3 separate regions of the Homo sapiens genome follow, and all the other regions are linked to region 1. Evidence: fine-mapped expression QTL. A gene starts in region 1. Each other region holds a variant in brackets. All regions are shown on one strand. Distances are between the middles of the regions. Region 1 holds the start of ITM2B (integral membrane protein 2B). Region 2 overlaps LOC105370198 (a long non-coding RNA gene). Region 3 overlaps LOC105370198 (a long non-coding RNA gene).

Region 1 (2,761 bases):
CCTTGAGTATTTTTCTACCATCTTATTTTAACACAGAACGAAGTAGGAAGGATGTACATATAATTATTTATAATCCTCCAGATCTTGCTTCCAGAAATACTTAGTCTTCAACTGTAATGTCTCAGGGAACCTATTAAACTAGGGAGCTGGAAGCAGTCGTTGACTTTGAGGAATTAGATAACATTAGATACTATGAAAGTCCAGTCCATAGAGTCAACCTCACAGAGCCGATGCCTGCACAAGGGCGACCCAGGAGTTTAAATAAGTTGCTGCAAGTATGGTTAGCTACTGTTAAAACTCACCAGAACTGGAACCTAACTCATCCTCCTCTTGGTTGAGCAGATTTCATTTTGACAGGAATTTCTGAATACCCAAAGCAAACTCAAAGTCTGGCCTGGGTTTCTATCTCAGCCCAGGATGCTTCTGAAATACATGAACAGAAGGATTTGGAGATCTTGGGCTGTTTCCCTGGGACTTATGATCTGACATTCTATGGAAATACCCAACTCCCTCCTTGAGCAGGGCCAAATCCCCAAAGATCTCAGACTGAACCCACTTTTTTCAGGGTTGGCCCAAGGCAGAGCTGACACAGCTGTAACATTCTAGAGCACACCCACAACTCTGGATGAACCAGGACAGAATGGGGTGGAAGGATACAAGATAACACATTTGTCCAAGGGGGCCGTCTGTTGACACAGTAATGAACGCAGTAACGACGGGAGCCAGTATTCTACCTCGCATTAGTTGTAAATGAAACGTCTTCAAAACATGAGAATTTTGCGTTATCCTTAATTATTTTTTCATTTTGCAGAAAAATAAAGGGACTCGTCATCGAGTACTTTGAGTCACAAATCAGCCAAGTGTGCATGTGGTTTTTTTCCAAGTACGCACAAGAGTGGAACATTTCGTTTTACGAGTGTGAGATGTTTGAAATACAAATCTGCCAAGAGCTTCCTCCACATTGGTCTGGGACTAGGCAGAACAGGCCCTGACCTCCTGAGAGAGGGAAGGAAGACCAGGCAGGTCTGAGCCAGGTAAACGCCCTTGGGTGAGGTCCGTGAAAGATAAAGTCAGATCTCAAGGACAGAGAGCTTTAAACATGTTTGTGCTCCACTGAGTCGGTTACCTAATAAGTGAGAAAATGAAGATGTGGATGCACAAAAATTCCATGGCCTTTAGGCTCGCGGTGGGGACAGGGTACAGGGAAGCGGCGGTCTGGTGCTGCCAAAGGTTAGTCCCTTGTACCCGGCGAACTCAGGAAAGTTCACTCGATTTCGCTACAAACCTGCAGCACTCGGCCTGGAGGTAACCTGGTTGGGAGCGAATTCAGAACTGGAAATTCCAGGCGGCCCAGAGGGACACCCATCCCTCTCCGAGGCGCGCCGGGATCCGGCGCCCAGCTGCGGGGCGAGGGCAGGGTCCCGCGCAGCACCCCACCCCCGGCCGCTGGCCCCGCCCCCGCCCCCGCCCCGCCTCCCAGGGGATGTGCGAGCAGTCTCCGCCCTCGCGCGGGAGCTGGGAGGCTGCGAGATCCCTACCGCAGTAGCCGCCTCTGCCGCCGCGGAGCTTCCCGAACCTCTTCAGCCGCCCGGAGCCGCTCCCGGAGCCCGGCCGTAGAGGCTGCAATCGCAGCCGGGAGCCCGCAGCCCGCGCCCCGAGCCCGCCGCCGCCCTTCGAGGGCGCCCCAGGCCGCGCCATGGTGAAGGTGACGTTCAACTCCGCTCTGGCCCAGAAGGAGGCCAAGAAGGACGAGCCCAAGAGCGGCGAGGAGGCGCTCATCATCCCCCCCGACGCCGTCGCGGTGGACTGCAAGGTCCGAGCCCGGGGAGGTCGAGGAAGCGGGTGCTGGGCCCGGCCGGGGAGGGCTGCGCGGACTGCAGCGGCAGTGCGCCCCGAGGTGGCGGGCGCGGGGCTCGCGCCGCGGGGACAAGTCCCCGAGAGAGCCCGGCGCTCCCGTTTCCTGTGGGTCCGCAGCTCCTTTGTAAGGAAGTGCGTGTGCTGGAAGCGGTGCCTGACGCGGGGTCGGGGGCTTGGGAGGCCTGGAGAGGGAACGATTGGCTAATTGTGCCGAATTCCCGGTCGTTTGTGCAGTCCGGGGAGCGTGCGTGCAGCCAGGACTTGGCTTGTTCGATCTGGGGACCGGCAGCGACAGGCACAACAACAACAACCGAGTTTGGCACTTCCTTCCCAGTATAAATAATGTACCTAAAATGGCTGACATCATTACAAGCCTAAACCTCTGTTGTTTCCCACTTTCGTTTCTAGGCTTGAACAGCACTTGGACTAAGTCCAGCAACTGTAAGCGTCTTAATTTTAAAAGCGTTTCTTTACCTCCTTTTTCCACGGCCCTTCGGTAGTGGCAGGTGAACTTCACCTGGAGAGGGGACGAAGGGACAGTCCGCCCGAAGTAGGTTTGGGCTGTCTCTTACCATTACTAGTAAAGGCCAGTAATGACTATGTGGATGTTAGTGAAAAACCAATTGTTGGCATTTAAATTGTATCAGCGTCTTTGTGAGGACTCCTGCTGCGTGAAACTAAACATGAGAAATTTGCCCCCGGGTCCCTAATAAAATTCTCCTTTATTTTACAAAATCTCCCTTTAATCCTAGGAAAATTCATGAAGTGGGGCTGTTACTGTGTTGACTTTTAGTAGGTTACGATCATATTTACTTAAATATGAGTGTAATTGTCTCATAAGTTAAAAAAGCCCACAGCCTCTTACCCAGACCCTTTTTAGGCTGCAAAAATTAGAAATTAACTG
Region 2 (2,761 bases), 110 kb before region 1:
GGTGGTCAACACCATACAGTATGAAGGAACCACGAATACAAAACAAGGAAAACAAAAGACAGATTTTCAGAGTGCTGCCATGATGCACACAATTTCAAATAAAAGCTATGGTGAGTTTTAGCAAAATTTGGATATAAGAGATTTGGTTTTCAGATCCTGAGTCTCCTTTTTTGGCAGTGTTTTCTCATATCTGCGGTCTCTTCTCTTTAAGCACCAGAGGCCCCTCTATTCCTCACCAAGGAGAAAATATTGATGTAGACTCTTGGTGTGTAAGGCAAGACATAATCTTCCAAGAGTATCTGAAAGCTTCATCTTTATGTGGAAGGAATTTTCAGGTAAAAAGCTGGTGTGGAATTATACGAACCTTCCTGGTGTCCCTTCTCTCAAACCTCCCTAGAGGCACTTTCTATTTTTACTCTCTCTTCCTTGGTGCCATTTGTAACAGTGGGTATCTAGTTTACAAGGCACATCTTCACCCTGTCTTTGACTGGATTGAAAGAGGTTCCTTTCTCTAAGAAACAGCAGAATTCATGTAAGGAAAAGGCTATTTAGGTGAAATCGTGCTATGATATTTTGCTATGTCCAATCTATGATAAGGTCTTTGAAGGCCTATTATTGAGATGTGAAGTGTAAGGAAGCCAGTAGTCATTGAAAATTGCATTTCACGTAGAAACGTGCATCGCATTTGCTGAGGACATGAGTACCAGGGCTGGTGCTCTGAGCATGCCAGCGCTTGTTTACATGGGGCTGAAGGATGGCTTCCTCACTCGAACTACAAGGGCTGCCCCACCCTGCACTGGACTCAATGGAAGGAAGGGCGGGGTTGGCACAAAAAGTTTTGACAATACTCCAGTTCTTTGCACCCCAAATATTTACTGAAACAGTCGGATAATTCTTTAGGGAGACCAGGCCTAACACTACAAAAGGTGGCAAAGAGCCAGGAGGAGAAAAAAATGCTCCCGTTTGGTAAGGTTGTGTTTATTTTTGCCTGTAATAAATGCAGAAACAACAATACAGAAATACAGAAATTGTCCTACACACACCCTCTTCAAACTGATCACGCATTTGAAAATTTAGCTTCAGGGAAACCAGCCACTGCAGCTTCTATTCAGGCATTCCTGGTCCTGCAGGCAGCTGTTTCCTCTGCTTGGAATAGTGTCTCTTCTCACTGAAGCCCACCTTTCTTCTGATTCCTCTGCAGTCTTCTCCACATCCCACTGCCTGTATTAAGCCTCTCCCAGTTGTCCCAGCCCACAGTAATCTCTCTGTTCTTGGGCCTCCTACAGCACTCACTTGGCAAGTGTGGTGGCATTTATCTGCTTGTCCACTCAGCTCCTCTCCTTACCACTGGACCTTACACGGAATAGTCAACCTTCACTACATACGCCTACAAACAATGACAAGTTATTATAGTATAGTGGTTTAGG[T/C]GCACCATTGTCAAGTTCATGTTTGTGTGATTTGTAAACTCAAATGAAGAAGTTGGGCCAGGCGCGAATGCTCAGGCCTGTAATCCCAGCATTTTGGGAGGCCGAGGTGGGTGGATCACAAGAGGTCAGGAGTTCAAGGCCAGCCTGGCCAACATGATGAAACCCCATCTCTACCAAAAGTACAAAAAATTAGCCAGGCATAGTGGTGGGCACCTGTAATCCCAGCTACTCGGGAGGCTGAGACACGAGAATCACTTGAACCTGAGAGGCAGAGGTTGCAGTGAGCCAAGATCACACCACTTTACTCCAGCCTGGGTGACAGAGCGAGATTCCATCACTCACAAACACACACACACACACCCATTAAAAAAAAAAAAGTTTTCCTTTGTTACTTTTGAAATGTAGTAAATCCCTAATGTGTAATCATTTTCAAACATCATGGATTTTGTTAGGAGGCATAAGAAACAGCACGTGGGCTAGGCACCGTGGCTCATGCCTGTAATCCCAGCGATTTGGGAGGCCGAGGCAGGTGGATCACGAAGTCAGGAGTTCAAGACCAGCCTGGCCAACACAGTGAAACCCCATGTCTACTAAAAATACAAAAAATTAGTCGGGCGTGGTACCAGGCGCCTGTAATCCCAGCTACTCAGGAGGCTGAGGCAGGAGAATTGCTTGAACCCGGGAGGCAGATGTTGCAGTGAGCTGAGACCATGCCACTGCACTCCAGCCTGGGTGACAGAGTGAGACTCCATCTCAAAAAAAAAAAAAGAAAAGAAAAGAAAAGAAAGAGCACCTGGCAGATATGGGTAGAGAGATGAAGAACTAACTGAAGAGAATGAGAAGAGCAAGGAACTGGTTCACACAGTGCGAGCCCCATTGGTGTGCTTTACGTGGTCTGCTTCACTTGGGATTTTCTTGTGTTTGTTTGTTTTTTTTTTGTTGTTGTTTTTTTTTTGTTTTTTTTTTTTGTAGAGACAAGGTGTTGCTAAGTTTTGCCCAGGCTGGTCTTGAACACCTAGCCTTGAGCAATCCTCCCAAGGCCTTCTATCTTGGGTTTAACACTGAAAGTCCTAGGCAACCCCTCAGGCAAACCAGAAAGGTGGGTCACCCTACCAGGTGGCCAGTAAGCATCTTGACAAGAAGGAAATAACGTTTTAAGTCATGAACAGAGCCCTCTTTACTTTCTTTCACTTCAAATTCCAGTGCCTCGGCCTCTCCAAGGACATTCCACTCTCCTATAACAAGCCGAGGAGCAGGCAAAAATGCCCAGGGACTAAGCAGGAGTCCTGGGTTTATTAAACTCTCTCCACTTCAGAAGCAATGCCAGGCCCATT
Region 3 (2,761 bases), 89 kb before region 1:
TCTTTAACATTTTTTAGACTGGGCATGGTGGCTCACACCTGTAATCCCAGCACTTTGGGAGGCCGAGGTGGGTGGATAACCTGAGGTCAGGAGTTTGAGACCAGCCTGGTCAACACGGTGAAACTCCGTCTCTACTAAAAACACAAAAAAAGTAGTCAGGTGTGGTGGTGGGTGCCTATAATCCCAGCTACTCAGGAGGCTGAGGCAGGAGAATTGCGTGACCCCTGCAGGTAGAGGTTAAAAAGTTAGCAGCTATGGTGGTGCACATCTGTAGTCCTAGCTACTTGGGAGGCTGAGGTGGGAGGATTGCTTGAGCCCAGAAATTCAAGCCTGCAGTGAGCCATGATTGTACCACTGCGCTCCAGCCTGAGCAACAGAGCAAGATCTTGTCTCTAAAAAAAAAAAAAAAAAAACATGTAGATGATGTTTAAATAATGGGATTGATGAGATTACCAAGTAGAGATTGTAGAAATGAGAAGACCTGGAAGCAACCAACATTTAAAAGTCAGACATAGAGGCTGGGTATGGTGGCTTTCACCTGTAATCCCAGCACTTTGGGAGGCCGAGGTGGGCAGATCACTTGAAGGAGTTCAAGACCAGCCTGGCCAACATGGCGAAACCCCATCTCTACTAAAAATACAAAAATTAGCCAGGCATGGTGGTGTGCGCCTGTAATCCTAACTACTCAGGAAGCTGGGGCAGGAGAATCGCTTGAACCCAGGAGGCAGAGGTTGCAGTGAGCCGAGATTGTGCCACTGCACTCTGGCCTGGGCAACAAAGCGAGACCCTGTCTAAAAAAAAAAAAAAAAAAAAAAAGTCAGACACAGAAAGTAAGACCAGCAAAGAAGACCGCAAAGGAAGAATGAAATAGGTGGGAAACCAGGAGAGCATGGTGTCAACAGAGGCCAAGATTATTTCTGGAAGAGGAGTGGAGTGAACTATGTCAAATGCTACTCAAAGTGAAGTAAGATGAGGACCGAGAAATGACCATTAGATTTGGCAAAATGGAGGACACCTTAATAAGAGCCATTTATTAGAGCGATGAAGACAAGCCCGACTGGAGTACATTGAAGGGAACTGGAGGTGAGAAAGTAGAGAGAACAAATACATATGTCTCTTTTGAGATGTTTTACCATGAAGAAAAGCACAGAGGAAATATGGGGTTAAGGAGGTTTCAAGAGGGATGAGCAATATTAAGGCATGTTTGCAAACTGTGGGAAATCATTCCATAAAGAGAGAGACTAACAGTGCAGTAAAAGGTGAATAATTGCAGGCATAAAGTCCTTGAGAAGGAGGACAAAATAGAATCCAGAGAACTCCAGAGAAGTTTTCGCCAACAGATTTTTTAACCTATGGGAGAGCAGTTTTAGGAAAACGGAGGAGGCAAAATCCAAACTGTGCGAGTTTAAGGAATGAAATATGGAACTAAAAATAACACAACTAAAATGACATTAGTGGTTCTCTCTGGGTAATACAGGATTTGGGATAATTTTTTTTTTCTGTGCTTCTTTTTACATTTCTGTGACTTTCAAATTTTCTGGAAGGAATTCTTACCACTATCATAATTAGGAAAAAAATGCAAAAAGTTTAAGAAAAGTGACGTCAGTAAGTGTACTGAATTGCATCTGTCT[T/C]GGAAGTAGGCCCACCCCTGAGAATACAGGAAGTACAGCAACAGTATCTAGACACAGACGTGACCCTGGCAGGAAGGCCGTGTTGTTCATGATGAAACTGTTTCTCCTTTTCAAATCCCCAGTCCCATATCTGCTGGGTACTACTAATTCAATGTACTCCAGATACAGGAGGAAGTCCACCCTAGCAGGCAAAACACAATAGCTAAAAAGGGTGGCTGCAGTCATTGCAGTTGTTCAGTATTGTGGTTGCCTCAGGTGAGGCTTGGAAGTCTAGGCAGATGGACACTTCACGCTACAGAAATGTCTACATGTAGGCAGCCACGCTACCAGAGTCCAAGACCAGGACTGGTGGGGTCAAAGGTGGGCTTGTAAGAACTAAGCCCCATGGCCAGGCACAGTGGCTCACGCCTGTAATCTCAGCACTTTGGGAGGCCAAGGTGGGTGGATCACCTGAGATCAGGAGTTCAAGAACCCATCTCGAACTCCCACCTCTACTAAAAGATGGGAAACCCAATCTCTACTAAAAATACAAAAATTAGCCGGGTGTGGTGGTGAGTGCCTGTTATCCCAGCTACTTGGGAGGCTGAGGCTGGAGAACTGCGTGAACCCGGGAGGCAGAAGTTGCAGTGAGCTGAGATCATGCCACTGCACTCCAGCCTGGGCAACAAGAGTGAAACTTGGTCTCAAAAAAGCAAAACAAACAAAACAAAACAAAACAAAACAAAAACAAAATTAAGCCCCCAGCAGGCGCACCATAGTGCTCCATTTAACAGAGGCCTCACATTCCTAAAGGACCTCTGAGCTGGTTATTTCCAGGTGAGGCCTCACATTTTACAGTGATGCACTAAAAGGACTGAAAGAAGGTGACTCTTACCATACAGCTTTGAACATGCTTCCCATTACTAAACCATTCATCTGTCCTGCATTATAAATTAAGGTATTTATAATCCCACAATTATTTTATGAGCAGCACAATTACATTGCATATTTTTCTTTGATTTAAAAGCCCCAAGGTTTTAGAGACATTTAAAATGTATCACATTTAAAACTAGCCCTGTTATAGTATTTCTTTATTTTCTGAAGTTAATAGACTTAATTTTTTTAGAATAGTTTCATATTTACAGAAAAAT

The links.
Region 2: its variant is fine-mapped to the expression of ITM2B in lung (TOPMed, PIP 0.92).
Region 3: its variant is fine-mapped to the expression of ITM2B in whole blood (TOPMed, PIP 0.98).

What each region holds. Positions count from the first base shown.
Region 1 is chr13:48,231,665-48,234,425 of GRCh38, forward strand. It overlaps ITM2B (integral membrane protein 2B), which reads left to right and starts at 1,542. Exons shown (of 6, transcript NM_021999.5): 1 at 1,542-1,813. The coding sequence starts at 1,697. RefSeq lists silencers at 1,418-1,777, 1,788-1,997 and an enhancer at 2,053-2,750.
Region 2 is chr13:48,123,230-48,125,990 of GRCh38, forward strand. All of the region lies in intron 5 of LOC105370198 (a long non-coding RNA gene), which reads right to left. Among named protein-coding and RNA genes, the nearest start is that of MED4, 30 kb to the left of the region's middle. The variant T/C (reference allele first, on the strand shown) is at 1,428.
Region 3 is chr13:48,142,921-48,145,681 of GRCh38, forward strand. The region is part of intron 4 of LOC105370198 (a long non-coding RNA gene); the gene reads right to left. Among named protein-coding and RNA genes, the nearest start is that of MED4, 49 kb to the left of the region's middle. The variant T/C (reference allele first, on the strand shown) is at 1,632.